7 linked regions of the Homo sapiens genome follow. The protein of the gene in region 3 interacts with the protein of the main gene of each other region in a pairwise test. Each region holds a gene or a part of one and is shown on either strand. Other genes may lie near its edges.

Region 1 (4,522 bases), on a different chromosome or scaffold from region 3:
AGAACAACCCTGGAACAGCGTGGGAGAGGTGGAGGGGATTTGTTCCAGGCAAAGAGCAAAATTGGTCATGGATTCAGTCTCCATGGAGTAAATACTCCAAAGGACAGAATTAAAGGGGCCAGTAGGGAGACTGGAAGTGGGGGAGTCTGGACTAAGTCTAGACTAAGGGGGTGTGTTGCAGAGAATGCTCAGCCAAGTTCTTTTGGAATGAGAACAGGAGAACATTAGAGTTGGGGATATGTATGTGGGGCAGGAATTTTCATCGGTTTCTGTGTCATGGACCATGTTGGTAGTTTCATGAAACTTATGGACTCCTTCCCAGAATACTGTTTTTAAATACAAAAAATAAGAAGTAAATGAGATTACAAAGGAAATCAGTTGTATTGAAGTAATAGCTACCAAAATACTAAACTAAATTTGTGATATATAAGAAAATACATTTTAATATAGGTAAAAAGTTGGGGATAATTGATTTAACTTGAATTAAAACCAAATTCCCATTAAAGTACATGGACCATTCCCAAGATCATGGACCCTAAGTTAAGAACTCCCAGCCTACGGAGATGGTTGAGAACCATAAGGTTGAAGGAGGTGAGAAGGTGAGTGGCAGGCTTCAGGGGCACATCCTGCTTAAGGATGGTGGTGGAAGGGGTTGTTTGGGGGCTAAGTTTCTTTTAGAATGTTTGTGGTAGTCAGGGTCCAGTCCAGGTGGTTTTTGGAAAGGTCTTTCCAGGTTTTTGGAAAGGGCCTGAGAGCTAGCTGATGGGAATAAGCTATTTTTGAATTTACTTTGGGGGAGCCATTTTAACTATGTTACTTGAGAAATAGTCAATTATATTCTGAAAATATTTAATATTTGGTTTTCCATGTTTGAGTGTTGACTAATGGTTGGGCTCATGGAGTTAAGATATAGTGAGAATTTTCATGGTTAATGGTAATCTTGGCCAATAAAGTCTAGTTGAACTGAATTTCCACGTAGGAGTTTTTAAATTTTTTATTTTTTTCTTTTCTTTTGAGACAGACTTTCTCTCTGTTGCCCAGGGGAGTGATCATGGCTCACTGCAGCCTTGACCTCCCTGGCTCAAGTGATCCTCTCACCTTTCAGCCTCCCCAGTAGCTGGGACTACTGGTGCATGCCACTAATGCCTAGCTAATATTTTGGGGTTTTTTGTAGAGGCAGAGTTTCATTATGTTGCCCAGGCTGGTCTTGAATTCCTGAGCTCAAATGATCCTCCTGCCTTGGCCTCACACAGTGCTGGGATTACAGGTGTGAGCCACTGCACCAAGCTGCAGTTTCAGAATAGGGAGTCAGGTAACTGTGCTGGGTATGCAGGGTTTTTGAAATATTATTTCTTTAATAGCAATAGCAGTTAGTTGTCTGCATATATGATGTAGATAACATTATCATTAAACCTTACTCTTTGAGAAGAAGAAGAAGGGGCTGGAAGACCTGTTGCTTCACACCCCACTGTGGCTGGAAGGCTACCTTTGGGATAATCGTCCAGGTTGGTGACATCAGGGAACAGGCTCACTGTGGGTTCCCACGGTATTCTCTTTGGGGTTTTTTTTTTTTTTTTTTTTTTTTGGCAGAGTCTCTCTCTGTCACCCTGGCTGGAGTGCAGTGGCGCGTTCTCAGCTCATTTCAACTTCCTCCTCCCGGGTTCAAGTGATTCTCATGCCTCAGCCTTCCAAATAGCTGAGACTACAGCTAATTTTTGTAGTAGTATTTTTAGTAGAGACAGGGTTTCATCATGTTGGCCAGGCTGGTCTCAAACTGCTGAGCCGAAGCAATCCACCCGCCTCGGCCTCCCAGAGTTGGTGGGATCACAGGCGTGAGCCATTGTGCCTGGCCTTGAATTCTGTTTGTTACTCGCAGATGCTCAACTGTGATTTTAGAATTCTGTGTATGTATTTTTATTTAGCTCCACAAACTAGATATGACTGAAATGTGAGGTTAAATTAAATCTTTGCAACATTTGTTGCTATTTAGCATTTTAAAAAGAATAAAAAAATAACAAAAGAAAGTTCTAGCCTTCTTTGGTTTGTTGTTTTCTTGCTTAGAGGCCTGTGCAGTAGTGCTCCCATCTCACTCCTGTCAGGCTGAGCTTCAGAGGTTGGCAGTCTGTGTTTAAACTTGCAGATGCCAAATGCTTTTTTAAAAACTCAAGAGTGGTAACAAATGGAGAGGAAGAAAGGGCTTGAGGTCAGTGGGAACTAACCCTTTAAATACCGTGCTTTTTTTAAGTCCAAGTTAGGGTACTTGAAACTTGTGGTGTGGGAGAAGAGTATTTGCAGTTTCCCTTTATCAGCTGTGATTCTCTGCTTCTAAAGAATGTTTTTATTGTGTGCACGATGGTTAGTCTACTGAGGTTTTCTGTCCTCTCTCCTCTTCCTGTGATGTGTCTATGAACAACACCCTTTTCCATACATTTTTATGTGCATCTTTGAGTATTTCCTTGTGATAAATTCTTAAAGAGAATTACTGAATCAGAGGATAAAACATTTTTGTGACTGTTACTGAAAACTTATTCTGGTATATACTTTCATTGGTAAGGAAATAATACCAGTGTATTTTAAGATTAAAGAAAACCTTGAGTTATTGGGAAATTTTGCTGATTTCTTTTAAATACTGTTGTTTTCTGCTTCCACTTATGATACATGAGATGAGAGGAAGGTTTCTTTTGTATTTAAGGTGTCTCAACAAGCAGCAAAGTGTATTCCAGCAATGGTGTGTCCTGAACTGACAGAACAAATCCGGAGAGAGATAGCTGCCTCTCTTCATCAGAGAAAGGGGGATTTTGCTTGCTATTTTCTGACTGACCTTGTAACATTTACATTGCCAGCAGGTAACTCCAAAATCTAACGTAAAAAGACTTTTTTATTTTATTATAGTTACATTTGTGTATGTAGGTGAAAAATGTTTCTGTTAGAAAGCACATAACATAGCTACTGTATGTGCATCTTAAATTACTTGACTGTCTTATATATGCTGGAAGTGAGCATACAGAGGATTACTTGTTAGGAAATGCGTCTGCTATCTGAGAGGAAGACAGCAGTTGATAGTAACGGATTTCTTTGTGGACCTCAGATTATTTTTTAAAAATCTGTTGTACTCTTTTATTTTTCTCTTTGGTTTTATTTTAGAATATCCTTTAAAAAAATCTCCTTTGAAAAATTTTCCCTTTTCATGCTTGTGTGTTATTTGAAATTAGATAGCTATATTGGTTACCTGGTATTAAGAGATGGGATTAGAACATGAGCTTTTGATGGGTAGAGTCAGGTTATTTGAATTGAACACACTGCATCCTCTTGAATATGTCATTCCTTTTTTACTCATTTATTTCTACTATGTTTGTGAAGGAACTTTTCATTTTTCAATTCATTGACAGTTGAAAACATCCTCCAGAATGCGTTTTGTCAGTTGGCATTGAATAAATACACCAAACACCAAACGTTTCTAAAATCTTTCATCTGAGATTCTGAGATCTGTTTGTTTTGTTGCTGTTTTTTTTTTTTTTAGATTGAAACGGGGTCTTGCTCTGTTGCCCAGGCTAGAGTGCAATGGGCGTGATCATAGCTTACTGCGCCTTCAACTTCTGGGCTCAAGTGATCTCCTGCCTTGACCTCCTGAGTAGCTAGGACTATAGGCACATGCCACCCACCCCTGGCTAATTTTTAATTTTTTTGTAGAGATGGAGTCTCGCAGTATTACTCAGGCTAGATCTCAGTGTTTTTAATTTTTATGTTCAGACAAACGGATTTTTACAAATTGTAGGAGATAGTAACTAAGTTTTCTGAAACTGGAGGAAGTTTCATTTGAAATGCACTTGTTCTGAGTATTTAAGCTTACCCCAGAATGATTAGATTTTTAAAAATTTATTTTTTATTTTTATTTTTTGAGACAGGGTCTTACTCTATCGCCTAGGCTGGAGTGCGGTGGCAGGATCACGGCTCATTGCAGCCTTGGCCTCCCCAGGCTCAAACAGTTCTCTCACCGTAGCCTCCTGAGTAGCTGGGACACAGGTGTCTGCTGCCTTGTCTGATTAATTTTTGTATATTTTTTGTATAGAGACAGGGTTTTGCCGTGTTGCCCAGGCTGGGCTCAGAATCCTGAGTTCAAGCAGTATGCTGGCCTCAGCCTCCCAAAGTGCTGGAATTATAGGCGTGAGCCATTGCACCCGGCCCAGAAAAGAAATATTTTATATCACACATGTTACACTGGTATATTAAGAAAAAGCTATCTGATAACCTTCAATGGAAAGGGAGTTATTTTAGAGAAAGTTACTAGTAGGTAATTAATAAGTGTAATTAAGTATAAGTTAAGTGTAAGTTATGAAACAAAAGATCTTTTAAGTTTGCATTTTCTTTGTAGATATTGAAGATTTGCCCCCAACAGTCCAAGAAAAATTATTTGATGAGGTGCTTGATAGAGACGTTCAAAAAGGTAAGCATGGAATTAATGAGTATAATTTACCTTTCATCTGATCAAGTAAGTTTTGTTTAGTAAGGCATGGTGTAGTTT
Region 2 (4,522 bases), on a different chromosome or scaffold from region 3:
ATCTTATGTTTACAGCATGATAAACATGACTTTTAAGCTGAATTTCAAATAAAAAAAGTTATATATTTAGATTTACACCACATAATTCTTATGCAATTTATTTTGATTTTGGAAAGATGGTTGTGCTATTAAGTCCAACTTGGCCATGAATCAATTACCCAATTGATATGGTTAGGCTTTGTGTCTCCACCCAAATCTTATCTTGAATTGTAACCCCCAGGTGTTGAGGAAGAGACCTGGTGGGAGGTGATCAGATCATAGGGACAGTTTCCCCAGTGCTGTTCTTGTGACAGGGAGTGAGTCTCATGAGATCTGATGGTTTCATAAGCATCTGGCATTTCCTCTGCTTGCACTTCTCTCTCCTGCCACCATGTGATGAAGGTCCTTGCTTCCCCTTCACCTTCCGCCATCATTTTAAGTTTCCTGAGGCCTCCCCAACCATGTGGAACTGTGAGTCAGTTAAACCTCTTTCCTTTATAAATTACCCAGTCTTGTGTAGTATCTTTATAGCAGTGTGAGAACGGACTAATACACCAATCGTGAACAGATTAGCTAAATCTGTTAGCTTCACTTTCTTTATATTAATAATAGGGTATTTTATCTTCCAACCATAGGGGTTAAGAGAATAAAATGAGATAAATCTTCAAGTATTTACTACAATTTTTGGAAGTATGCATTAAATGATATATAAAATTTAATGACAAGTTTAATGTTAAGTTCACTGAATCAAAGAATGTCCTGGAAATCTCTTAAATAAAACATGTTCAAAGCCAACCTTGTTCCTCCTATTAGACTCCCTAATATTAAACGAAAAACTAGTAAGTTTGGCAGCTTTGACTCTTCCATTTCCTTCTTCCCACTCACCCAACAGCTATGACATGCCGATTTCATTTCCTTCACCATCATACCTACCGTACTACATGAGTTGAGGTCCTCACTCTCCGTCCCTTGACTTTCCCCTCTAAGGTTCTTGACTTCAATCTACTTCTTTCCTGTTCATCCTCTAGAATGCTATTATTATTACCAGAATTATTTTCTGAAAACAAACCTCATTATGCCAAACCTAATCAAACTTACACTGGTGCAAACTCATTTGAATGTCATCTAAGTTTCTTCATCATCTGACATCGACAAGTATTGTCAGCTTCATCACTTCCACCTTACCCCACTTCCTCATAACCTGGATAGCCACAGTGAATTTATCTTGATTTTCTGTTGTGTACTGGAATATTCTCCCTTCTCTATCATGAATAAAACTTCTATTTATCCATCAAGATCCAGACGAGGTTTACCTTGTCTCTTAAGGTTCTTCCCAAATATTTCAGGCATATCATTGTGCATATTTCTCATAATGGCACTTATTCCAGAACAAACAATTATGTCTCCTACCAGACTGAGTTTTCTGAGGACAGGAAGTACATCTTACTCATGTTTGTATCCCTCAGAACCTGACACTTTGTAAATATACAACGTGAAAAAATCTGAAAGGAACACTAAAGTAATCTTGACGAGGTTTCATTTCAATTCCTATGTAAAACAAATAACCAAATGTGGCTGGGTTACTACAAAAAATGATGAGAAACATTATACCATTTTTTGAAGGTTTCAGAGGAACCATCAGGTTTTGGTTCTATGTATGTTTAAAGTCAGCTATACTATTCTTGTACCTGAAAATTCAATTTTTTAAGTTAAACAAATTACTCTAATACATTCTATGTATATTCTTGTTTTTTTGAGACAGAGTCTTGCTCTGTCACCTGGTTGCCAGGATGGAATGCAGTGGCGCGATCTTGGCTCAAGGCAACCTCCACTTCCCAGGTTCATGCGATTCCCCTGCCTCAGCCTCCTGAGTAGTTGAGACTACAGGCGCACACCACCATATCCAGCTAATTTTTGTGTTTGTGTATTTTAGTCGAGATGGGGTTTCACCACGTTGGCCAGGATGGTCTCGATCTCCTGACTTTGTGATCCACCAGCCTCAGCCTTCCAAAGTGCTAGGATTACAGGCATGAGCTGCTGCGCCAGCCTGCATATTCTTATAGACTTACATAAAACATTTTTTAAGGCTTATCTATGCATCCCTTCCTCTCCCACCAAAAAAAGGAGTGGTAGTGTGATGACGAAATCTAAATACAGAAATGTAAACAAACTGATGCTATTTTAAGAACATTTCTCATTTATCACCTATAGTACTTGGGATTCATAAAGAGAAAAGAATAAAGTACTGAGTGTACTTTTCCATCTGAAGGGACTAGAACCAGTTTATAGACATCATCATGTTCTTATCCCCTCAGAGTTTATGGAGTCAATCACTTATATATGAGTCTGGAAAACTTGCCCAATGTCAGACAAAATGATAAGATCATACTATATGCATTCAACTTACTAGCAAACATTCTCTTCTATAATGTGATATCAATTCTTCATCATGTCCTCTGTATAAGCCTTTAGACAAGAGTTCTTTGTTATTCTGATAAGCACAGATGAGGAACAGCAAGGAATCTATATAACTTGAAAATTAAAAAGAAACATATAACATTAGTATTTCACCTTTGTAGAAACAAAGTCAGCTATAATTATGAAACATTTTAAGTATATGCTTAAGTTTTGATAATCTACATTATAATAAAAAATATCATCTGACGCAGTGTATGCTTGAGAGCGCCTTTTTAGCAACAGCAACATCTGAAACCCAGAGATAGTTATCTTAAAAGTAAAAAAAGAAGAGCTATAAATTAAGAAAAAATCTGGGAAAAGAGGCAATAACTGATAAAGTCAGATAGTTCTGTTTTCCTTGGTATTTATTTTCCTGATGTCTTCCATTTAAACTCAAAATTGGAGCTAATGTGAAAGCCAACAATCTAATTGTTTAACGCAATGTCACATTTATATGAAGTAAATGATCACAAACATCATTTGGTTTGTTCAATGACAACTTAGACAGGTTCTTTTCTATGTGCAGACAGTTTTAGTTACTGAGAAAAATGTAAAAAAAAAATAGAAATAAGAATATCTAAAGGAAATAGAGGAAGTGGACAATGAAAGATTTCTTCTAAATCTGGGAAACCTAGTGGAATAAAGCAAAAACAAAAAGCCTGCAAACATAAAAAAGCTGATAGAGGCCGGGTGCGGCGGCTCACACCTGTAATCCCAGCACTTTGGGAGGCTGAGGCAGACGGACCACCTGACGTAGGGAGTTCGAGACCAGCCTGACCAACATGGAGAAACCCCGCCTCTACTAAAAATACAAGATTAGCCGGGCATGGTGACACATGCCTGTAGTCCCAGCTACTCGGCAGGCTGAGGTAGCAGAATCCCGGGAGGTGGAGGGTGAGGTGAGCTGAGATCACGCCACTGCACTCCAGCCTGGGCAACAAGAGCAAAACTCCGTCTCAAAAAAAAAAGAAGTGATAGAATTAGGCATATGTGTTATATTAATGTAAGTCTAGATATTATGAAATTCAAATTAGGTTTTAAAAAGGGAAGAAAAGGGGCCAGGCACAGTCGCTCATGCCTGTAATCCCAATACTTTGGGAGGTGGTGGTGACAGGATCAGCTGAGGCCAGAAGTTCAAGACCTGCCTGGCCAACATAGTTGACACCCCCATCTCTACAAAAACATTAAAAAAAAAAAAATTAGCTGGGCATCGTGGTACATGCCTGTAGTACCAGCTACTCAGGAGGCTGAGGAGGAAGGACTTCTTGAGCTGAGAAGGTAAGAGGTTGTAGTGAGCCATGATCATACCACTGCATTCCAGCCTGCGCAACAGAGCAAGACCCCAACTCAAAAATACAAAACAAAACAAAAATGGAAGAAAAAAATATTTAATAAAGAATTACTTTTACCTCAAAACTATCCTTCTAACATGTCAAAATAAAAACTATATCTAGCCAAGTATTTGTATAACTGAAATAAAAAATATTATTTTAAAATATTTCCTTTGCGTCAGTTTTTCATTAATATATTTTTTCACAGATTAATATGGAAAAATATATTTTAAAAAATGAAATATTGTAAAGAAACACAATTTTAAACTCTAGACGCTCCTGCCAATAATTACTGTTTATTACTTAATTCATGTACTTAGATACAAAATAAATCCATTCCACATCCCAAATGTTAAATGTAAAATTATTTAAAAATTAATGTATACATTCATGGCAAATCAAATTACACACCTGAAGGTGTCATGATAAATAGGTCTATTTTATACATTTTTTGAAAACGGCTTTCTAGGAATTTGTTTTTGAGATTAAGTATAACATTTTATTTTGAAATGATATTAGGTTAATAAACATATTCTCAGTTAAAGATGTTATTTATGAAAAACGAAGGAAGTGATAATATTAAAAGTTGTTTTACAACATTAAGTTGTAGTAGTTCGTTAATTAATAAGTAACTAGCACATCTATCTTTTCCTTTATAGCTACTGAGTTTCCTGTTAAGAAGATCTCTCCTGAATGACACTGACATCTGGCTTTCTAGACCTGAGTCACCTCTTTGAGAATTGCTCTGAAACCAT
Region 3 (5,071 bases):
CCACCATCAAAAATCTAGATCTCCCTTAGAATTTGCAAAAACACATGAAAGGAAAAAAAATTCCTTTTAATGGAATGGGTTCTGGCTCCCCAGCTGATAGCAGAGTATTAGCCCAGTGGCTTATGAGTTTCCAGTCTTAAAGGAGTATCACCTTTATTTCTCAGAAACACCCTGGGGACTACGCTCATAAAACACCTAGTTTGTGTACTGGATTCACTTCACTTGCACTGGGACAAGAGCACCGGCCACTTTCAATCCCTGCTCCAGGCAAAGATCCCCTCTGGTTTTTCCACAATCCCAAAGTAACTGTTAAAGGCAATTTTTCATTCCAGTCTCCATCTCTCAAGTGTGAGATCCACCATCTGAGTGTGTGACCCCTGCTCAGTGCGCCCCATATAGGCACTATGCCAGGACATAAAATTACCTCCTATTGCAGTATGTTCAGTTTCCCGAAGTCTCAGTTACCTTGCTTAGGACATTTACACTAGATTCCACTGCTGGTAATACCCCCACCTTCTTTTTTATCCCCTTTTCACCTGTCTTTAGGTCTTAAGGAGTATCTCATTACCTTCGTTATATGATAGCTGCTGTTGGATTCTAAAATTCTGTGGGCAGGGATTGGGGTTTTTTTGTTGTTTGTTTGTTTTTTGTTTTCTTAGCTTATCCGGTACTAGCCAGGAGCCCTCCAAAGTACAGCTGCTCAATTAATATTTGGACAATTGAAGTGTAAGTGACCAGGAAGTCAAATGTATTGCTATTTAATTTCCCCCACATTCCTGAAAAAGCTAAGCAGATCCGGGTACATATACTTCAGTTTTACAAAGAAAGACTAAAAAGAATAAAACAAAGCAAGAATTGACCACATTTTACTTTTTTTTTCTCTACTTCCTGGTCCCACCAACTTTATTGCAAGGTAATTTCCTTTTCACAAATTCCATATTCCAATGCCATATTATCTTGTTCTAGATCACAGAAAAAGACTTAAAAGATTTTTAAATTGTTTTACATAATGCAAAAATTCTCACTCTCCAACCTGATATATTTTAATAAATGAGTGATTCATGCCATTCATAAACTTAGATTCTGAAACTAAATAAATCTACAATTTAAAAAAAGAACACTGAAAAACAGGAAAAAGAAAAGATAAATCATTTTACATACAAATATGTTATACATGGTGTTCCCACCAACTCCCCTTTGGCTCTCCATTAATTAGAAGGTTAAGTGTTTTCTTAATCAAAAGTAAAGAATATACCTCAGACTTCACAAGGAGTGGGAGACACTGCTGGACACCACACTGAAACATGCCAGGCCCAGTTGCAACACTGTCTCTGGCTCTCTCTCCCTCATCTCTTAAAGTCTTCTCTTAATGGAGGGAAGACAATGGAGACACTGTCATTGACCTTGGCCCAGGCCTCCACATTCTTGAATAATCTAAGCAAACCAGGTATGTAACTTTTAAATTTATGAGCAAAAAAAGACTGAACTGAGTAAGACAAACCACGAATAAAGCAACTTTTACTTTTCTTCCCTTTCTATCTTCAGATTCTACCTATTTTACTGTGGAGTTATTTTAAATTTCTAAGGATAACCTTACTCCCATGCCGTGTTATTTTGCTCTGTATCACAAAAATTATTTCAGGATTTTCTATTTGTATTTCAAAAACAAAATTATTATCACTAAACCAACCTGATAAACAGCAATAAATGTGTGATGCATGCCATTTCTAAATTTATATTCTGAATCTAAATAAACTTTCTATTTTAAGAAACATCATGGAAAATACAACAAAGAGATAAATCAATGAGTTATTCATGCATCACAGGAACAGAGAAAGCAGCAGGTCTTTCAACCACAAAGTGAACAATTTGCCTTAGATCTCACATGGGTTGGGAAGAGCTACTGGATGTGGCCCTGGAATACGCACTAGTCATGGCTGTAGTGCCACGCCTGGCTGCAACTCTGGGCCGGGCTCCAGCTCTCTCTTCTTCATCTCTCAAAGCCTCTTCATAAAGCAGTGGGAAGTTATTGGGGGTGGTGTCATTCACCTTGGCCAAAAACTCCAGGACTTTCATCTTGCTGGTTTCTGCATGAGCTCTTGGACCCCACAGGAATTGATAGCGTGGGGGATCACTGTTGGGCACCTGCTGGTATTCCAGATATTTTTCCTGTACCAGATCTTGGGTGATGAGCTTTCGGGGTTCCCCAAAGATAAGGTGCCTCTTTCCATCATAGATCCCCAGCATATTCAGGAATTCCCAGATTTCCTCTTCACGGGCACAGTTGCCATTTAAGAAGATCACACTCAGTAGAGGCATCAGAAGCCCATTCCTTGGAAGGGTCCAGGCACTGCTCTGGTTTCCATCGTTGGGGCCTAGCATGCTGACGAGGATGTAGGAGTGAGTGGTGGGGTTGACCTCCTTCAAGGCAAGGCCAAAGACCAGCTCCGTGCGCTGAGAGACTTTCCTGAAGATCTCAGGGAAGTGCTCCTTGTACTTTTTGCTGATGATCTTCAGCATTTCTGCCTTTGTAGTGGGCTCTTTCATTTTATACTTGTACAGCAGGAACTGCACTAACATCTTCGTCTTCCTGGTTAGAGAATCTTTGAGTGATCTCTCAGTGGATGTTGAGGCCTGGGAGGAACTTGCATTTTCCTCATCTTGGCTCTCGTCGCCTTTATCAGATCCAGTGCATGACATAGCTGCAGCAGCAGAGGTGGTGGGTGGCTCTCTCTGAGGCTCCTGGGGAATGCCAAAAGCAAGGGAGCTGGAGGCAGTATCCCTCAAAACAGATGAGGAAGAGGAAGGAGACTCTTCTTTCTCTGCTGCAGTAGGCTGACCAACCTTGAGATCCTGGGTCTGACCACGGGTCCGCTGGCGTTTCTCACGGGCACGGAGCTTACTCTTCTGACCCCGAGGCATGATGGCTGTGGTTAGGCACAGCAGGCAGGAGTGTAGGCAGAAGGGCAGGTGATGTGGTTCCTGGAGAAGAGCAAATGAAATCCTGAGAACACCTTCAGCAGGCAGATACTACCTTGGCTTTTCAGAAGCCGCCTCTGCAGGATTCCTTGAGAACACTGCTCTAAGTATTCACTGGGCTATTGTTCTTAGTCATTCTGTCCCCTGAGAAGCCAGCTGAGGAAGTTACAATGTGCCTTAGGCTGCAGCTTGCCAACCCTGCCTGGGGCTGACTGGGTGACAACAAGGCTCGCAGTGGGGCTTTCTGTGTTCTGGCTTGGAGAGGATCCACTCTGATTACCTTTAGAATTGTCATGTCAGCTCTTGGCAGGGCCTGAGCCTCCCTCTATTGGTGTTGTGAAATTGACTCTTTAGTTTTCTGGGACCCAGATGAGGGAAGTCTAGGGGCCCCTCAACCCACCACCCCTGCCTAGAAGCATTTAGTGCTCTCTCTGTCCTGGGCTCTTTAGGTCCCAAGTTTGCACTCAGGATCCTCATCTGGACTCCAAGCAGGGTTGTGGACTGTCTCTTCTGCTGACTGATAACTGCAACTTCAGACCAAGAATTTCATCTTTTCTAGTTCTGGTATAAAATGTGATGGGCATCTATGAAAGAAAATAATTGATAATCTGGACTTCGCTAAATTAAAACTTCTGCTCTGCTAAAGATACCACAAAGAGAATAAGATAACTCCCAGGTTGGGAAAAAATTATTTTCAAAAGACATATCTGATAAGGGACTGTTAACCAAAACATACAAAAATGTCTTAAAACTGAACAATAAGAACTGACCAACCCTATTAAAAATGGACAAAAGATCTAAACAGGCACCTCAACAAATAATATATATGGAAGGCAAATACGTACATGAAATGATGGTCAACATCACATATCATTAGAGACTTGCAAATTAAAACAATAATGTGATACCACTACATACCTATAAGAATGGTCAAAATCAAAAACCCTGATAACCCCAAATACTGATGAGGATGTGGAGCAACAGGAGCACACTGTCATTGCTGATGGACATGAAAAATGATACAGCCACTTTTGAAGACAGTTTGTAAGTTTCTTACAAAGCTATGCATACTTTCATCATATGATCTAGCAAGTGCGCTCCTTGTTATTTAGCCAGATGAGTTGAAAACGGTATGTCCACAAAAAAAACCTGCACACAAATGTTTATAGTAGCTTTATTCATAATTGCCCAAACTGGGAAGCAAGCAATATGTCCTTCAGAAGGAGAGTGGATAAATTAACAGAATAAAATATTATTCAGCACTAAAAGGGAATGAACTATCAAGCCACAAAGAGACATGGATGAAACTTAGATACATATTACAAAGTGAAAGAAGCCAATTTGAAAAGTCTATACATTGCATAATTCCATCTATATGACATTCTGGAAAAGGCAAAAGTATGGAAACAGTACAAAGTTCAGTGGTTTCCAAAGGTTGGGGAGAGTGAGAGATAAATAGATCAGGCACAGAGAACTTTTAAGGCAGTAAAACAATTCTGGATGATTCTATGGTGGTAAACATATGTCATTATACATTTTTAAATATTAAAACCACAGAATGTGCAGCAACAGGAATGAATCCTAAACTACGGACATTGGGTGATAATGATGTGTCCATGTATTCTCAATTGTAACAAATGTATCACCCTGGCTTGGGAGGTTGATATGAAGGAGGCTGTGTCTGTGGGAGGACAGGATGCCTGTGAGACTCTCCTTTCTGCTCAGTTTTGCTGTGAACGTAAAACTATTCTAAAAAAGAAGGTCAATTATTAAAAAAAAAAAGTGATGGTGAGTCCTCAGCCTTACATGTTGCCCTGGCAATTTAAGAGTTATGCAGGGGGGTGGACTCTGTTGCTCTCTCTATTCAGAGGTGAGCAGTCCCCTCAGTTCTCACTCGGTTTCCTTGATTTGGCTCCTAGCAGATCCTAGGGCTCCCCTCTTTTTTGACCTGAAGACCTCTCCATTTAAAAGGCCTGCACCTCCCTGAGATCAGATAGGAGGAAGAGGGTGGCCTTATCTGGCCACAGCTGACCATGGTCTCCCAAGAGTGGCAGCTGTGGTAGACAGGTTGAGGTCTTATGGTGGATTGTCC
Region 4 (3,513 bases), on a different chromosome or scaffold from region 3:
AAAAATCAACTAAGTAACAACCAAAGATCTCATTCTCTTTAACATCTTCCAGGATCACAAATTTCAATTATTCTCTGCCTGAGTTATCACAATTCAAACTGGAGAATGAAGAGTAAACACAAGCAAAAGAAGATAAAATCTATTAAAAGATCGAGAGACACCAGACACAAATGGGTTAAAAGAAGAAGAAGAATTAAAGGTTATACTGTTTTGATTACACACATAGAGGCTAGGAAGAAGAAAATGAATTGAGATTACCTGTTAGAAATAGGCGGTTTCTGGTTTCTGGGAGCTGTCCAATGTACTGAGTGAACCATCATAACCACAACTTACCCCCTTAATAGGGACTGACGTCCTGGGCAGTTCTCTTTTGAACCGGGATGTTTCTACATTCATCTTTTTAGGCTATTTCTTCCAATCTACCTTTAAAATTATCTTCTAATCTGTCACTTTGACACAATGGGTCTTTTAAATAAATCTTTACACAGTACTGAATAATTAAGTAAATATAGTTATTGGCAAACAAAGAAAAAGAACCTTTTTGTTAAAATATTTGGGATACTCGAGATAATATAAAATGAGTAATCTCTTATTTTTCTTATGCCAAATTTAAAATCTCTTTCTTTTCTCAAAAATAACGATCTAACGATAGCCAAAAACTCCCTTAAATATATTTCAATAAATCATTGTTTCTGCACTTAAGTCTTACTGTAGGACAATACAAATCAATGAGGAAAATACGCCAGATGGAAGTGTTAGGTTTTTTTCTTTGTTCGGGAACAAATACTCGATCCGCAATTTAAAAGTCCGAAGACTCCTCAGCAGAGGGTGAGCTGATTGACTCTTTGGCTTATCAAGGGCAAATCGCATTTCTGAAAAGAGCTTGAAGTGGTTTTGTTTGTGAGGAGAGTTTGCTTTGTCCCCCACACTGAAAAGTATACAGCAAAGCCCGAGCATAGAAAATATCCTGAGCTTAAATTTCTCATTTTATTGCCATCATAACTTTTCCTCTTGGAATAAAATCCTCTATTTTATATGAGTAGGAGGTAAAGGTAGGGAAAGGAAAGTCAAGTATCTCAATTGTTACGCTGATTGCATCCAAACAGACTTTAGAAGTCAGGGTTTGTAACGTGGCAGGAGAGCTGTTTGCGATGCCCTGGAAAGAAAAGAAAGCCGGTTCCAACAGCGACTCTGGGGAATGCACTCTCGGTCCCCCTGCCATGCTTACTTAAGCTAATTGAAGGTCTTGCCTTTCAGCAGCCGCTGCACTGGGATACCAGACAAACAGCTCCCCTTGATGCCAGGCAGGCAGGGCCCCTCTTCAGGACATCATTAAAAGCACATGCACTTGCTCCACATCCATTGGCAGATGGTGGCAAGATTCAAGACTCCTACCCTGAAGTCAAGGAGAAGCCATCGCGGTGGAAAACATCCTCGCTTTGAAAATCCAACACGAAATTAAAGAACTACACGAGATAAGGAGCCTGGAGAACATTAGTTGGCTGCAGGGGTGAAGACAGACACAAAAAGCACAGCAGGTAAGAGCTGGGGGTTGTTGCCAACAAGGAACTGTCCCGGGTGGCGCAGAGAAAAGGATCTCAGAACTGGAGCCCTGTCCCTTTGAGTCTTCCATGCGTGCTCAAGCTTGTCATCTTCCATAAGCTTCGAGAGAAGGGACGTTGTCAGAGCATTCCTTATCGGTGCGACTAATCCTGTTATCAGCTTGGTTATAAATATTTAATGTTCCCTGGCCTTTCGGTGATGGTGCCCCATCAGATTCAAGGCTGTTAAGAATCCCCACCAGCAACCTCGCCCCTCCCTGCGGAAAACCGATGAGAGGCAGGGCCAAGCCGAAGCGATGGCGGCCTATCCGGAGAGCTGCGTGGACACTACGGTGCTGGACTTCGTCGCAGACCTGTCCCTGGCCTCCCCGAGACGCCCTCTCCTCTGCGACTTCGCACCCGGGGTCTCCTTGGGGGACCCAGCCCTTGCGCTCCGAGAGGGAAGACCCAGGAGGATGGCGCGGTTTGAAGAGGGGGACCCAGAAGAAGAGGAGTGCGAAGTGGACCAGGGGGACGGAGAAGAGGAGGAGGAAGAGGAGCGCGGAAGAGGTGTCTCCCTATTAGGCCGCCCCAAGAGGAAAAGGGTGATCACCTACGCCCAGCGCCAGGCCGCCAACATCCGCGAAAGGAAGCGGATGTTCAACCTCAACGAGGCCTTTGACCAGCTGCGGAGGAAGGTGCCCACGTTTGCTTACGAGAAAAGGCTGTCCCGGATCGAGACCCTCCGCCTGGCCATCGTCTATATCTCCTTCATGACCGAGCTCTTGGAGAGCTGTGAGAAGAAGGAAAGCGGCTGAGCCTGGTGTGGAGAGTCTGCCCTTCCTCGTCTGGTAGTGCTGGGGTGTGTCAGGACCGGGCACTGGGTGAGGCTAAAGGGCCGGGAGGGAGGCCCCAAGACAGAACGTCTGGTCTTCTGGAGGTCGGGGTCGAGATTGTAAGATCCCCACATGCGCTGAGCAGAGTGGCTGCTGTAGAGTTCATATCTACGCGACCGCCCTAAGTGAAGTCGGGGTCAGGGGCGAGCGGGGAAGTCAGAGAGCGTGAGGCTGAGTCGGGGCCGTTCAGGCTGCTCCTAAGAGCTTCCGTGGGCTGGGTGGGTGGGAAGTGAACCCTCCTCGCAAATGGCAGACTTTGGAGCTTCTATAAAATCTAACCTCTCTTCTTTACATTTTTTTTTTCATAGAGATAATAAAGTAGAAATTCTTACGTTTTTAAAAAGCCTGAAGGGTCGGTGGTACGCCATCCCCAGCAGGCGCTCCAGCGGGCGCCTGCGTGGAGGGTCTGAAGCAGACGCCGCAAGGGTGCGGGGGTGCGAGCTTTTCTGCTAGCCAGAGGGTTCTGCCTGGTCCTCCGAGGCTTGTCCAGGAACTGAGGAAAGGAAAAATGGAAGGCAGAGCAGTCGAGAGGAACTGCTGACAAAGTGCGACCTCTGAGAAGGGACACCCTTCCTGTCTTCCATTCCCTCTCCCTCCCGTCCCTTCCTCTCTCCCGCGCGCAAGCCCTCTCTCTTCCTTTCTCCCTCCCCTTCGCCACCTAGTTGATCCCAGACGGACCACAGCTCCTTGTCCCAGGGCCACAGTGGTGTTCATTCAGTGCCTTAGCCAGAGTGCAAATCTACGCTTTGCATCTAAAGTGCAGCATCAGCTTCCGTGTTCCAGTGCCTTCTTCAGGCCCCAGGCCAGAGTAAGGGGCGAGTGCACTCGGGTCACTCCTGGGCCGCAGGGGGCCTTGGGCGCCCTGCAGCTTCGCCACCAGCCACCGCTACCAACTGTCCCCGGCCAGGGGTTGGGGTATGAAGGGGCCTGGATCTTTCTAGGAGCAGGGCCGCCTGAGCGCGCTCACTTTTACATTTTTAGCTGTAGGTAGGAAAGATAGCTTTCACTCTAATGGCTTCTAGAGACTACCAGGGGAGACAAAAAGTCCAAAGAGGAGATGCCTTCTGACGCCTTGC
Region 5 (4,522 bases), on a different chromosome or scaffold from region 3:
TCGGGCCGGCGCCAGCCTCTCCCTCCCAGGCCCACCTTTCCATCTCTGCCCCATCACCTCCGATATGGGGGCCGTGGAGCCCCCCAGGTTTCTCCTACCCGGCCGGGTGCTCCTCACACATCCCACATCAGAGCAATGAACAGCCAGCTGGTCGAGCCCACGCCCAGGAGGGAAGCACAGGAAGCACAGCTACCGCAGGAACCCCCAGCTCTCAACTCGACGCCCGGCTCAGCACACACCCCGTGCAACGTGGGCCTTCAAAGGGCCCCACTGGCCCAGGAGCAGGTGCCTCAGCCGCCACGCGGGACGCGCCCACTCACCTGCTTAAACTGCTCCTCGTAAGTCCAGTCGCCGTGGTCAGGCGGCTGCAGCTGCGGGGCTACGTGGGCGGCCCCTCCGGGGTGGGCAGGGCCAGGCCCCGGCCGCTCCTGGCCCCCCAGCACCCTGGGAACGCCATCGCCGCGGAAGGCCTGGGGTGGCTGGGCCTTTCGGGGGAACAGTGCCGTGGTGCCCAAGCTGGCAGGGCCTGGGGGGCCCAGCCCCTCCTCGTCCTCCTCCTCCTCCTCATCCTCGTAATCCTCCTCCTCCTCCTCCTCATCCTCCCCGAGGTCTTCCTCCATCTCCTCCTCCTCCCATTTGGGCTTCCTGGGGTGAGCAGAGGGCAGGAGTCAGGGGAGAAGGTGCTGGCTCGTCCCAGCCCAAGGAAAGACCCACTCCCCGCCCAGCCTCAGTTTCCCTCTCTGGAAATAGGAAGAGCCGGCCGCCGCCAGCTCAGACTGCAGAGAGCGCTCATGAGCACAGCGTGGGGCACCCGTGACGCCCACTTTGTTTCCAATTAGCCCAGAACAGCACAAGCCGTCCCTACAGCGTGAATTTTGGGGCCTTGAAAAGCATCACGCAGGCAGCCACGGTGGCGCACACCTATAATCCCGGCAGCACTCTGGGAGGCCAAGGCGGGAGGATCCCTTGAGCCCAGGAGATGGAGGCTGTAGTGAGCTATGATGGCACCACTGCACTCCAGCCTGGGCCACAGAGCAAGACTCTCTTGGGAAAAAAAAAAAGGGAATCATTACGGCAGGCTGGTTCCTGCATCCTGCACCATGCATGCTGTCCCAGCTCCACCTCCCCTTCCCTCCACAGGGAGAATTCTCCCACCGCCATCTGAAATCCGCCCCACCCTCGCCACTGCCCCTCCACGGCACCCTCCTAGACTTTCTTGGCAGCCGTTTTTTTTTTTTTGTCTTTTTTTTGAGAGGGAGTCTCGCTCTGTCGTCCAGGCTGGAGTGCAACGGCGCAATCTCGGCTCACTGCAAGCTCCGCCTCCCGGGTTCATGCCATTCTCCTGCCTCAGCCTCCCAAGTAGCTGGGACTACAGGCGCCCGCCACCACGCCTGGCTAATTTTTTTGTATTTTTAGTGGAGACGGGGTTTCACCGTGTGAGCCAGGATGGTCTCGATCTCCTGACCTCGTGATCCGCCCACCTCGGCCTCCCAAAGTGCTGGGATTACAGGCGTGAGCCACCACGCCCAGCCATTGGCAGCTGTTTGTACAACCTGATATCACCTGCTTCTTTGCTGCTAGGTTTTGTTTGGTTGTTTTTTTTTTTTTTTTGAGACACAGTCTCACTTTGTTGCCCAGGCTGGAGTGCAAAGGCACGATCTCGGCTCACTGCAACCTCTGCCTCCCAGGTTCAAGCGATTCTCCTCCTCAGCCTCCTGAGTAGCTGGGATTACAGGCATGAGCCACTGCACCCGGCCAGTTTTGTTTTTTGAGACAGGGTCTTCTCTGTTGCCCAGGCTGGAGTGCAGTGGTGTGATCACAGCTCAGTGCAGTCTTGACCTCCTGAGCTCAAGCAGTCCTTCCGCCTCGGCCTCTCGAGTAGCTGGGACCACAGATGCATGCCACAACACCCGACTAATTTTTGTACTTTTTGTAGAAATGGGGCCTCACTAGGTTGCCCAGGCTGGTCTTGAACTCCTGGGCTCAAGCAATCCTCCCACCTCGGCCTCCCAAAGTGCTGGGATTACAGGCGTGAGCCACTGCGCCCAGCATCTTTGCTTGCTCAGGTCCTCCCAGGAAGATGCGGGTTCCTGGAGGCCAGGATCCCACAGCAAGTGAGCCCTCAGCCAGCCCTGGGGGGACCCACACGCTATGCAGGTCCAGCCGGCTGCAGATTTTATCTGCCCCTGCCGCTGAATCTGCTGTAGCCATCGGTGGCTAGGTTGCTTTAAGTTAACTAAGATGAAACAAAGTTGGCCGGGTGTGGTGGCTCACGCCTGTAATCCCAGCACTTTGGGAGGCCAAGGCAGGCAGATCATGAGGTCAGGAGATCGAGACCATCTTGGCTAACATGGTGAAACCCCGTCTCTACTAAAAATACAAAAAGTTAGCCAGGCGTGGTGGCGGGCGCCTGTAGTCCCAACTACTCGGGAGGCTGAGGCAGGAGAATGGTGTGAACCCGGGAGGAGGAGGTTGCAGTGAGCTGAGATCACGCCACTGCACTCCAGCCTGGGCGAAAAGAGCAAGACTCTGTCTAAAAAAAAAAAAAAAACCCACATTCTTGGCTCACTGCAATCTTCACCTCCCAGGTTCAAGCCATTCTCCTGCCTCAGCCTCCCGAGTAGCTGGGTTTACAGGCTTCTGCCACCACGCCTGGCTAATTTTTGTATTTTTAGTAGAGATGGGGTTTCGCCATGTTGGCCGGGCTGGTCTTGAGCTCCTGACCTCAGGTGATCCACCCACCTCGACCTCCCAAAGTGCTGGGATTACGGGCGTAAGCCACAGCACCCGGCTAAAAAAACCATTTTTCTTTTGAGACTGGGTCTATCTCTGTCATCCAGGCTGGAGTGCAGTGGCACAATCACAACTCAACTTCTGTTCTCAAGGGATCCTCCTGCCTCAGCCTCCCCAGTAGCTGGGACCACAGGTGCACCACCATGCCTGGCTAATTTTTTAATTTTTTGCGGAGATGGGGTCTTGCTATGTTGCCCAGGCTGGTCTCCAACCCCTGGGCCCACGTGATCCTCCCACGTCGGCCTCTCAAACTGCTGGAATTACAGGAAGGAGATCCCGCGACCTGACCCTTACTCCCATTCTGCAGATGAGCAGAGTGACACTCAGAGCCAGTAACAGCCCCCAGAAGGCCCTGCCCCAGACCCCAACTCACATGTCCTCGTCGGAGGCCATGTCCTCAAAGTGCTCCTCTCCTGGCCCTTCTCTGCCTCGCCCGGGTGAGCCCGGTGTCCCCTCCCGGGCCGCGTCCTCCTCCTCCGAGCCTGGGGGCCCATCCTCAGAGCCGCCGGGGCTGGCTGGGTGTCCCAGGCCCGCAGCTGCAGCCCGCATGGCTGCCAGTGCGGCCATCTGAGCCCGCTGCATCCGGGCACTCTCGGGCTCTCTGTCCTCGTCGGGGGCAGCCCGGGCCCGGCCGGGGGGTGCAGCAGGGGGATCGGGGGGCAGCTGCTGCCGGGCCTCCAGCTCCTGGCGCGCCCGCTGCTGCCGCTGCAACAGCGTCTCCATCACGGCCTGTAGTTTCATGGCCCTGCGGCCCGGGCCACCACCACCACCACCACCACCACCACCACGGGCGCTAGGGGTGGGCGGCGGGGGCGGCCCCTGCGGGGAGGGGGCCCGGCCGCACTGCAGCGTGGGGGCCGCGGGGGAGCCGGGGCAGTGCAGGGTGGCAGGGGGCGGGGGCGGGGGCCGCCGGGCTCAAGCTGAAGGCTGATGGGGCATGCCTCTTCCTCACGCTGGGCTCCAGGGGACAGAGGCTGGCATCCGGCTCATTCACGCATTTGCAGAAACCTGAGGGGGAAAAAAGGCACAGTCAGAGCAGGCCTGAGCTCCTCAAGCCCCCTCCTTCCTTCCCCATGAAGGCCCTGGGGATCAGCTCTCATGTCCATCTCATGCAGGATGCAGACCTGGAGGCCTTCTTGGAGGCAGAGGCGCAGGCTCTTCGCATACAGCCTACTGTGGGCCTGGGTAGCAAGGTCGCCCCGCACGGGGCCACAGAGAAACACGCTGTGGCCAGACTGTCTGCCCCAGGAGATCTTGGATTATTGCTTCACAAGCAGGGTGGGGGAATGGGCGTTCCTGGCCTGTGATTGGCCAGCGGGCTCCGGGCCCCAGTCAGGTGGGTTCTAAGTTCCAGTCGCTGCCTGAGTCCCTGTTGGAGCGGCCCAGCCTGGCCTCCAGGTATCTAGGTATCCTCCCATCTCAGGCCAGACTGGAGATTGAGCGCCTGTTGTATACGGGCCCTGGGCTAACCCTCCCCCCATCACACAACTCAACAGCAACGCCCAAGCCACAACTTCTCTGGACCTCAGGTTCCCTACCTGCAAAACAGTGTGGGTAACAGTACCCCCCCAACCCATGGCACTCAAGGAGGGATGAATCGAGTTCAGGAGGTTAAGGTGGGCACCAACAGGTGTCAGAGAAGGGGGCACCAGGGCGGTCCCATTTCATGGTTGAGGACAACTGAGGCTCAGGGATCCTCTGCTTGGAGACATGGCGGTGGGATTTGAAC
Region 6 (4,522 bases), on a different chromosome or scaffold from region 3:
CGTGCGCTCACAGCTGCTCCTGCAGCTCCAGGATCACGCCTTCCAGCTCCCGTTTCTCGCGCTGGTTCTGCGCCGCCGCCTCCTCCAGCTGCAGCTGAAGCCGCCGGTTCTCCGCCTCCAGGTCCTTCAGCTGCGACTCGCGCAGACGCACCAGCTCCTCCAGGTAGCCCTGCGGGGCGCCGGCTCAGCCCGGGCGGCTGGGAGGACGTCCCGGCCGCGGCCCCCATCCCCGCCCCGCCCCGGGATGCCCGGATCCCCCGCCCGGCCCGCCCGCCCCCCGGGCCCGCCGGCGTCGCGCACCTTCTGCGCGTAGACGATGCGGAACTTCTGCTCCATCTTGTGCCACTTGCTGTACCAGCTGTCCTCATCGGTGACGAGCGGGAGGTACGGGTGCTCGGGCGAGTTGTCCTCGCTCGTGCTGCTCTCGGCGCTGTGCCGCTCCTCCTCGTCCGTCAGGTAGTCGTAGCTTGGGAGAGGGAGCAGTGGGCACGGCCGGTCCCGCCCCTCCCCCCGCGCGTCTGCGCTGGCCGCTGAGGGCGGTGGGACCAGGACGTCCCCAGGATGTCCCGAGGCCCCGTCCCCCGCCCCGCCGCAGTCATGGAGCCGCTCACCTCTGCGTGAACTTTAGGTAGGGCGTGTAATCGATGACCACGGGGGTCTTCCCGTCCAGGACTTCCCCCTTTAGACAGAAGCTGAGGCAGAGGAGCCACAGGGTTGGAGGTGGGTGTGAGGGGTTGGGGTAGGACATTTATGGGGGAAACAGCCCCCTCCACCACTGCCGTCAGGCAGACCCCACCTGAAGTCGATGGCGCTCAGTCCGATCAGCATTCCGGTGAGGATGGTGGCTTCATCCCGCAGCATGATGGCTCCAGAGTCATAGAACCGTCTGTGGGGAGGCAGAGGGCCAGAGGATGCAGCAGGCCCCTGGAGCGCCCCCCCCCCCCCCAGAGCTGCTATTGTTGGCTTACTGCCACCCCATCCTGAAGGAAGGCCAATTCTCCTTCCTGATCTGCACGCAGGCCTGGAGCCTCTCTCCCCCTTCAGCCTGGGGCTCGCACCTGTGGCCCCATCACCTAGAATGGGTGTTCCCTGAGCCGACTCCTCCCTCTGAGCTACCCCTTCCTCATCAAGTACTGGGTTACCCAGATCCTTCATATCAGGAAGCAAGTCTTAATCATTAGTGCTTGGTATACAGTAGGTGCGCAAAAAACGTGTTAACTTGAAACGTGTAGACTGAGGAATGGAATTCAGTAAAAACATCAGGCTGGGTATGGCCAATTGGGATGGGGAGGTATATGCCCCCCGCCACACCCAGACAGCTTCAGATGCACCTGCCCACACAGGCACACTCCTCCTTGTAACCCCTTGCCTCAGGCACCCAACCTCCCTGTGAACCCACAGTGCAGGGATTGAACTCCCCATATAAGGACTCTGTGTCCGTGAATAGCAAGTACAGAACTGCTTTCGTTGTTTGGAGAGACAGAAGGGCTGTGTTGTAGATCATGGAGCAAGCCAACACTTGAGATGGTGCATGGCTGAGGCTCATCCAGAGGTGTGCAAGGGTGGAGCGTGCTGGGCATTGATGGCAAATAATGGGCATTAGATTTGACTTGCAAGTGGTGGTGGTGGTGGTGGTAAAAGTTTGTCCTGGGGCCAGGAGCGGTGGCTCATGCCTGTAATCCCAGCACTTTGGGAGGCCAAGGCGGGAGGATCACCTGAGGTTGGGAGTTTGAGACCAGCCTGACCAACATGGAGAAACTAAAAATACAAAATTAGCTGGGCATGGTGGCGTATGCCTGTAATCCCAGCTACTCAGGAGGCTGAGGCAGGAGAATCGCTTGAACCCAGGAGGCGGAGGTTGCAGTGAGCCGAGATCGCGCCATCGCACTCCAGCCTGGGCAACAAGAGCGAAACTCCTTCTCAAAAAAAAAAAAAAAAAAAAGAGTTCGTCCTGGGACTGCAGGCCAGGCTGGAAGAGGGAAATCAGCCATGTGTGCTGGTGCTGGGACTTGTAGTCCAGGAACTGAAGGATGCTGCAGGAACTTAAGGATCAGCTGTGTTTGGGCAATGCAGGTGCACTCTGAGACCTGTGGTCTGAGTTGCCTGGGAAGTCTGACCTGGTGGTCCGGGTGTCACGCAGAGCCGTGGTGATGTATTCTGACATGCGCTTCTCCATCAGTGCCACCCGGATCCATGCCCGGCCCTGGAAATCATGTTCACCTTTACTTGCTGCCCCAGAGGGACTCATGTGTCCAGCATCAGGTGTGGGCCCTTCTCCCCTGGGCTGTGCACAGGGGGCAAAAACCAAGAAACAGGCAGGCCCCCTGTGTCCAGAGCAGAGAGCAGTTGCTTGCTTCAGGCCCCTCACCTTGGCCCGGGCTGTGCTGATGTTCTCCATGTTCTCGATGCTGCTCACACAGTTGTTGGGCACTTTGCTGCAGGCCAGCCGGATATAGTCCCAAAAGCCCCGCTGCCCGTCTGAGCTGAACCAGCTCACTGGACCTGCTGGGGCACAGGCTGAGCCAGGGCAGGGAGGGGGCTCAGCAAGACCAGGGAGTTTGGAGAGGGTCCATGTAGTGAGGCACTCACATGCATAAGCATAAGCAGCCTCCTCCCACAAAGATCTGTGCACACACATGCACGTGTGCAGTGGGCACCCCAGCATATCGCTTGCCCATGATGGGGATTGTAGGCCAAAGGCCTCTCCCTCTTCCCAGATCTGTACACAAGCTTCTGTGCATGGCCCAGAATGGGGGCCAGGGTCAATGAGGGGGTTCAGAGTCCATGGAGTATATCAGAAAGAGGTGGCTGGGAGCTAAAGGTTGGGAGTTGGGGAGGGACCGCTGGGGGAGGGGCGCTGGGGGAGGGACCACTGGGGGAGGGGCGCTGGGGGAGGGACCGCTGGGGGAGGGGCGCTGGGCCCACCTTTGAAGCGGTGGCTGAGGATCTGCTCTAAAATGGCTGCAAAATTGACAAACTCCTCCGATGAGTCATCGATGGGCTCCGCTGTGTACTTCTCCAGCAGCGTTTTCACAGAGAACCTGGGCGGCGAGGTGGGGAGATGGGGCAGTGGGGTGTCAGGTGAGGAAACAGGTGATGGAGGGAGAGACAGGGAGCAACCGGCAGAGAAGAAAGGTCAGGAAGGGCATGGATGTGGTGGGGGGCAGAGCGAGTGGGGAGACAGGCAAGACTACAGTGACCATAGAGGTACCGTGTCATGTGGAGTGAGAGGGTGGCAGATGGGGAGGAAGGGTGACAGGTGGGAGACTGATTGACAAAGTGGGTGACAGGAGAGGTGACAGCCAGAGAAAGGAAGCTTCGGGAGCAAGGGGTGAGAGGGACTGAAAAAATAGGAAGATGAGGCACAAGCCGGGGGCGGTCCAGGAGCCCCTTCCCCATAGACCACCCTTCAGGGTCTGTGTGTGCGAGGCCTGGGTCAACTAGGTGTTAGAAGCCAGTGTGTGCCCCACCTGAGCTGTCTTCTGTGATTGCTGGAGCAACCTTCAGTCCCTTTTGGGGATGGGGGTCACCTGTACCAGGGCATGTGAGTTGGCACTGTGCACATGGAGTGTGGGCATGCGCAGGTGGCCAGGTGGGCTCCCAGTACACAGATACCCCCTTCCCCCCTTTCCTTCCCGGCTTGGCCTCCCACACACCAGCTGCCCAGAACCAGGCAGTGCAGAGCTGGGCGGGGGTGGGGTGGGGAGGTGCGGGGTATGGGCCTGACACAGACACTGGGCAGGAGGGGGCATTGGCAGCAGATCCCTGGAAGGGGCTTGGGGGCCTGGCTTCTTTGGGAGGAAGGGACTAAGGGAAGCCTGTGGGGCTGAAGGACTGAAGCCATGCAGTGCCCCCTCTCCAGTCCTGTCTAAGCCTCAGGCTCCCTCTGCAGTCACTACCCCTGCAATCTCCCCCTGCCATCCCTGCAATGGAGTAGGGCAGGGATGAGGACACAGTTCCTAACATCCCATGATTTCCCTGCTGTGGGTGGCAGAGCAGGGGCGGGGTGTCCAGGGAAATGGGAGCTGCTTGGAAATGTCCTTTTCTTCTTATATTTATCAAGCCCTATAATGTGGCAAGCACAGTACTTTGCATGCATTCCCTTACCCATGCTCAGCCCTGAAAGGTAGGTCCTCTTAGTATTACTCTCATCCCCATTTTACAGGTAAAGAAATTGATGGTCCAAGAGGTTGACTGATCTGTTCGGAGTCACATGGCTTATGAGTAGTCAAGCAGGTATGTCTGATTCTGATTCTGAAGCTTCTGCTCTTTCTGCTACATCTGTGGCCTCCTGGCAGCTGTTGTGATGACCAAGGCCTGGAGCAGCCCCTGCTCCACCGCCCTTTGTCCTCTACTCTGCAAGTCTCCAGCCTTGGACCACTGACCTCTGAGGCTCTCAGGCCAATTGCACAGCTGAGCCCTCGTCCCCCTTCCTTTTGAACTTGGAGTTGAACTGCCTTGAGATCAGAGCCAGGTCAGTCTTGGGGTTGCACTAGAGGGAGGCAGCCTGCTGGATTCAAAT
Region 7 (4,060 bases), on a different chromosome or scaffold from region 3:
CAGTAGCCTGGCCACCCCTGTGCCCCCTGGGGCCCGCCTGGGGGTGGATCAAGGCTCTACCCCGCCTCCCTGACCCCTGCCCGCGGCCCTGCAGTAACATTTGACCTTGCGGCGGCCGCAAACCAGGGACAAAGGGGCCTAGGCCCATCTGCTGAGGGGGCACCCGTGGGAATGGCCAGATCCTGCTGGGGCAGCCTGGGAACCTGTCTCCGTCCTCCCACATGTGACCTTGGCTCCCTTTGCCCCTCCACAGGCAACCTGGTGGGACCAGGAACTCAGGTCTTAGACTCTGGGGCTCGGCAGGGTACAGGGAAGAAATTCAGCTTCTCTGCCCCACCCCAACACGAGCAAGGTGGTCTGCCTCCATTTCCCTGCTTTCTTCAAAGTTGGCCCAAGTCCAGGGACAGCGTGTGGGTCGGAAGGTGACTAGCCCCAGCCCTCGCTGGAGGGGACTGTGCTCGCCACCATACTTCTTGTTCTGTTTCTGGGGTCAGGTTGACTGGATTCAAGTCCAGGCCGCTGACTGGCGCTGACCTCAGGCTGACGTGGTCCTGCCCTGGGAGAGGCGGTGAACACACCTGCACAGGTGAGGCCTGGAGCACCTGCCCCCAAGGCTGGGAATGAAAGTCTTTCTAATCCCTGTCTCGGGTTTCAGCTGCCACCCTGAAGGGGGACAGCTGGCCACTAATCCAAGCTTGGCTGGGTCGTTCCAAGCTCCCCTTTCCCAGACTCAGCCAGTCCTGGTGTGGAGGGGCAGGGAGATGTGACTTATGCAAATGACATGCTAATTCATTGCCTGCTATTAACCTGACACGTCCCACAGCTCCTGGGCCCCCAGGAGAAAGCTGGAACTGGCCACCATTGGCATTCATTCTGAGTTTCTCTTGAAGTACAACGCCCCCTGAGTCCCAGACTATTACCTTTGCTATGCCTGTCCCCCACCCAGAAACCCTTTACCTTATTTTATTTATTTATTTTTGAGACAGACTCTCCTATTTTGCCTAGGCTGGTCTTAAACCCCTGGGCTCAAGCAGTCCTCCTCCCTCGGCCTCCTGAGATACTGGGATTACAGGCAAGCTCGACCACATGGAGTCCAGAAACCCTTGACCTTAGCTTTGAGTTAGTAGCAACTCGTCATCCACACCCTGAATCTGAACCATTCCAGCTTCAGTCTCCCTCCTTTTTGTTTTGTTTTGTGTTTTATTTATTTATTTAGAGACAGAGTTTTGCTCTTATTGCCCGGGCACGATCTTGTTGTTGGCGCGATCTCGGTTCACTGCAACCCCCGCCTCTCAGGTTCAAGCAATTATCCTGCCTCAGTCTCCCGAGTAGCCGGGATTACAGGCATGTGCCACAACACCCAGCCAATTTTTGTATTTTTAGTAGAGACGGGGGTTTCACCATGTTGGCCAAGCTGGTCTCAAGCTCCTGACCTCAGGTGATCCTCCCCGCCTCAGCCTCCCAAAGTGCTGGGATTACAGGCATGAGTCACCACGCCTGGCCTGTTTTTTTTTTTGAGACAAGGTCTTACTCTGTGACCCAGACTGGAGTGCAGTGGCGTGATCTCAGCTCACTGCAACCTCCACTTCCCAAGCTCAAGTTACCCTCCCACTTTAGCCTCCTAAATATCTTTATAGGCACATGCCACCACGCCTGGCTAATTTTTGTATTTTTTTGTAGAAATGGGGTTTTGCCATGTTGCCCAGGCTGGTCTTGAACTCCTGGGCTCAAGTGATCTACCCACCTTGGCCTCCCAAAATGCTGGGATTACAGATGTGCACCACTGAGCCCGGCCCCCTTCAGGAAAATCTGCCAGCCAAACCCAGCATCTCCCTGGGAAGGGGCTGCCAGGAGAAGCTCTGTCCAGTCCCCATGAATCCCTCCCTGGGCTTCGGGAGACAGGCCAGTTGGAACTTCAGCTGTGGCTATGCAACCTCACGGACCCCCGAAATGCGTCAGTCCCAGGGACCTGGTCCCATAGCCCAGGTTGCTTCTGGCCTGACCCCACTGATATGAAGTTCACATTCCACTTGGTGCCAGGCCAAAGACACCTGAGTCTTTCTTCATTGCCTGGCCACACCCCATCAGGCCCTGGACACCCATGTGCACCAGCTTCCCTCACGCCAAATGTGCCCCAACATGCCAAATCATGCAACATGACATGATGTCACTCCAGGACAGTTTATGACATGCCACAGCTGTCTGGCATGTCCAGACATGGCTGGGTAAGGGGCCTACAGAAAGGTGTCCCCAAGCTGGGGAGGCGGGAGGGGAGGCCTGGGCTTCCCCAGGGCCCTTGCAGTGGCTTCGAGCACCGCCACCTCCTCGGCCTGCTGAGCCTCCATGAGTGCCATCTGCTGCTCCAACTTCCGGCGTTGCTCTTCCTGCTTCCGGTGGGCTCCTCGGAAGGCCAGGACCAGGGCGCTGGAAGGGGTGGGTGGCTGGGTCAGGAAACAGCCCCCGAGTCCACCCAAGGCAAGGGCCGTGTACTCCCACTCCCAGAATGGGGGCTCTTTCACATTGGGTCTCCAAGGGTCCCAGCTAGCTGGTCTTTTGTTGTTGTTGTTGTTGTTGTTTGAGACAGAATTTCGCGCTTGTCACCCAGGCTGGAGTGCAATGGTAAGATCTCCCCTCACTACAACCTCTGCCTCGAGGGTTCAAGTGATTCTCCTGCCTTAGCCTCCCAAGTAGCTGGGATTACAGGCGCCCACCACCACGCCCAGCTAATTTTTTTGTATTTTTTAATAGAGACAGGGTTTGACCATGTTGCCCAGACTGGTCTTGAACTCCTGACCTCAGGTGATCCGCCTGCCTCAGCCTCCCAAAGTGCTGGGATTACAGGCGTGAGCCACCATGCCCAGCCTGTTTTTTCTTGTTGTTGTTTTTTGAGATGGGGTTTCGCTCTTGTTGCCCAGGCTGGAGTGCAATGGCACAATCTCGGCTCACTGCAACCTCTGCCTCCCGGGTTCAAGCGATTCTCCTGCCTCAGCCTACCGAGTAGCTGGGATCACAGGCATGCGCCACCACGCCTGGCTAATTTTGTATTTTTAGTAGAGATGGGGTTTCTCCATGTTGGTCAGGCTGGTCTCGAACTCCCGACCTCAGGTGATCTGCCCACCTTGGCCTCCCAAAGTGCTGGGATTTCAGGCGTGAGCCACTGCGCCTGGCCCAGCCTGTTGTTTTTTTTTTTTTTTTTTTAGACAGAGTCTTGCTCTGTCACCCAAGCTGGAGTGCAGTGGTGTGATCTCTGCTCACCACAACCTCCACCTCCTGGGTTTAAGCAATTCTCCTGTCTCTCAAGTAGCTGGAATTACAGGCACGTGCAAAGACGCCTAGCTAATTTTTGTATTTTTAGTAGAGATGGGGTTTCACCACGTTGGCCAGGCTGGTCTCAAACTCCTGACCTCAAGTGATCTGCTGGCCTCAGCCTCCCAACATGCTGGGATTACAGGTGTGAGCCACCACACCTGACCGTTACTGCCTATCTTGGGGCAGTGGGGAATGCTAAGGCCCAGAGACAGCCAGGGATACTTCTGATATCCTGGTGGGGGATGGTGCCAGGGGGATTGGGGGGATGCAGAACAGTCCTACCTGTGGGCTTTGCATAAATCCCTGTTCAGCTCGGCACTCTGAGACCGTCTGGCTCGCCCCTTCTGAGCCACCTGTTCCAGCTCCCTGCGCAGAGACTGCAGCTGCTCCTGCAGGTCCAGTGTCCTGTTGCGAAGGAGAAGAGAGGGGGCTCACAGCCCCAGCCGATCCTGTTTCCCAGGTCTCCTCCTACCCACCTGCCCACAGTATTGTCATGTAAACACACCTGTACACCGGGGTACACCTTAGCTTCTACTGCAGACGACACCCCCGGGGGCTCTCACATAGGCTGCCTGCCCACCCCCCGCACAGCCCAGGACCCAGGCACACACCTGGTGAGCGATGCTGCCAGTTCCTGGGCTAACTTCTCTGGGTCCCAGGCTCTGCCCACCTGGCCACCATCAATGCCACTGGTGCCACCAGGGACAGCAGGAAGGCCCTAAGGGAGGCAGAAGACAAGAAAGTGACATTA

What was found.
Region 1: the proteins of MAGEB4 (region 3) and ZRANB1 interact in binary tests that used the Homo sapiens proteins (3 or more experiments, as listed by UniProt).
Region 2: the proteins of MAGEB4 (region 3) and USP25 interact in binary tests that used the Homo sapiens proteins (3 or more experiments, as listed by UniProt).
Region 4: the proteins of MAGEB4 (region 3) and FERD3L interact in binary tests that used the Homo sapiens proteins (3 or more experiments, as listed by UniProt).
Region 5: the proteins of MAGEB4 (region 3) and ARID3A interact in binary tests that used the Homo sapiens proteins (3 or more experiments, as listed by UniProt).
Region 6: the proteins of MAGEB4 (region 3) and RUNDC3A interact in binary tests that used the Homo sapiens proteins (3 or more experiments, as listed by UniProt).
Region 7: the proteins of MAGEB4 (region 3) and USHBP1 interact in binary tests that used the Homo sapiens proteins (3 or more experiments, as listed by UniProt).

The regions. Positions count from the first base shown.
Region 1 is NC_000010.11:124,969,273-124,973,794, forward strand, and holds part of ZRANB1 (ubiquitin thioesterase ZRANB1), read left to right. Parts: intron 1-2,692; coding exon 2,693-2,846; intron 2,847-4,372; coding exon 4,373-4,444; intron 4,445-4,522. UniProt on the Homo sapiens protein: Ubiquitin thioesterase, which specifically hydrolyzes 'Lys-29'-linked and 'Lys-33'-linked diubiquitin. Also cleaves 'Lys-63'-linked chains, but with 40-fold less efficiency compared to 'Lys-29'-linked ones.
Region 2 is NC_000021.9:15,872,391-15,876,912, reverse strand, and holds part of USP25 (ubiquitin carboxyl-terminal hydrolase 25), read right to left. Parts: intron 2,511-4,522; coding exon 2,387-2,510; intron 1-2,386. UniProt on the Homo sapiens protein: Deubiquitinating enzyme that hydrolyzes ubiquitin moieties conjugated to substrates and thus, functions in various biological processes including inflammation and immune response.
Region 3 is NC_000023.11:30,239,987-30,245,057, reverse strand, and holds MAGEB4 (melanoma-associated antigen B4), read right to left. Parts: upstream 3,059-5,071; 5' UTR 2,923-3,058; coding exon 1,882-2,922; 3' UTR 871-1,881; downstream 1-870.
Region 4 is NC_000007.14:19,143,708-19,147,220, reverse strand, and holds FERD3L (fer3-like protein), read left to right. Parts: upstream 1-1,799; 5' UTR 1,800-1,858; coding exon 1,859-2,359; 3' UTR 2,360-2,439; downstream 2,440-3,513. UniProt on the Homo sapiens protein: Transcription factor that binds to the E-box and functions as inhibitor of transcription. DNA binding requires dimerization with an E protein. Inhibits transcription activation by ASCL1/MASH1 by sequestering E proteins.
Region 5 is NC_000019.10:928,541-933,062, reverse strand, and holds part of ARID3A (AT-rich interactive domain-containing protein 3A), read right to left. Parts: intron 4,050-4,522; exon of another isoform or gene 3,918-4,049; intron 3,802-3,917; 5' UTR 3,535-3,801; coding exon 3,167-3,534; intron 646-3,166; coding exon 321-645; intron 1-320. UniProt on the Homo sapiens protein: Transcription factor which may be involved in the control of cell cycle progression by the RB1/E2F1 pathway and in B-cell differentiation.
Region 6 is NC_000017.11:44,311,099-44,315,620, reverse strand, and holds part of RUNDC3A (RUN domain-containing protein 3A), read right to left. Parts: intron 3,042-4,522; coding exon 2,926-3,041; intron 2,518-2,925; coding exon 2,369-2,517; intron 2,204-2,368; coding exon 2,118-2,203; intron 887-2,117; coding exon 797-886; intron 693-796; coding exon 612-692; intron 467-611; coding exon 301-466; intron 170-300; coding exon 12-169; intron 1-11. UniProt on the Homo sapiens protein: May act as an effector of RAP2A in neuronal cells.
Region 7 is NC_000019.10:17,247,991-17,252,050, forward strand, and holds the end of USHBP1 (harmonin-binding protein USHBP1), read right to left. Parts: intron 4,028-4,060; coding exon 3,921-4,027; intron 3,715-3,920; coding exon 3,592-3,714; intron 2,425-3,591; coding exon 2,235-2,424; 3' UTR 1,181-2,234; downstream 1-1,180.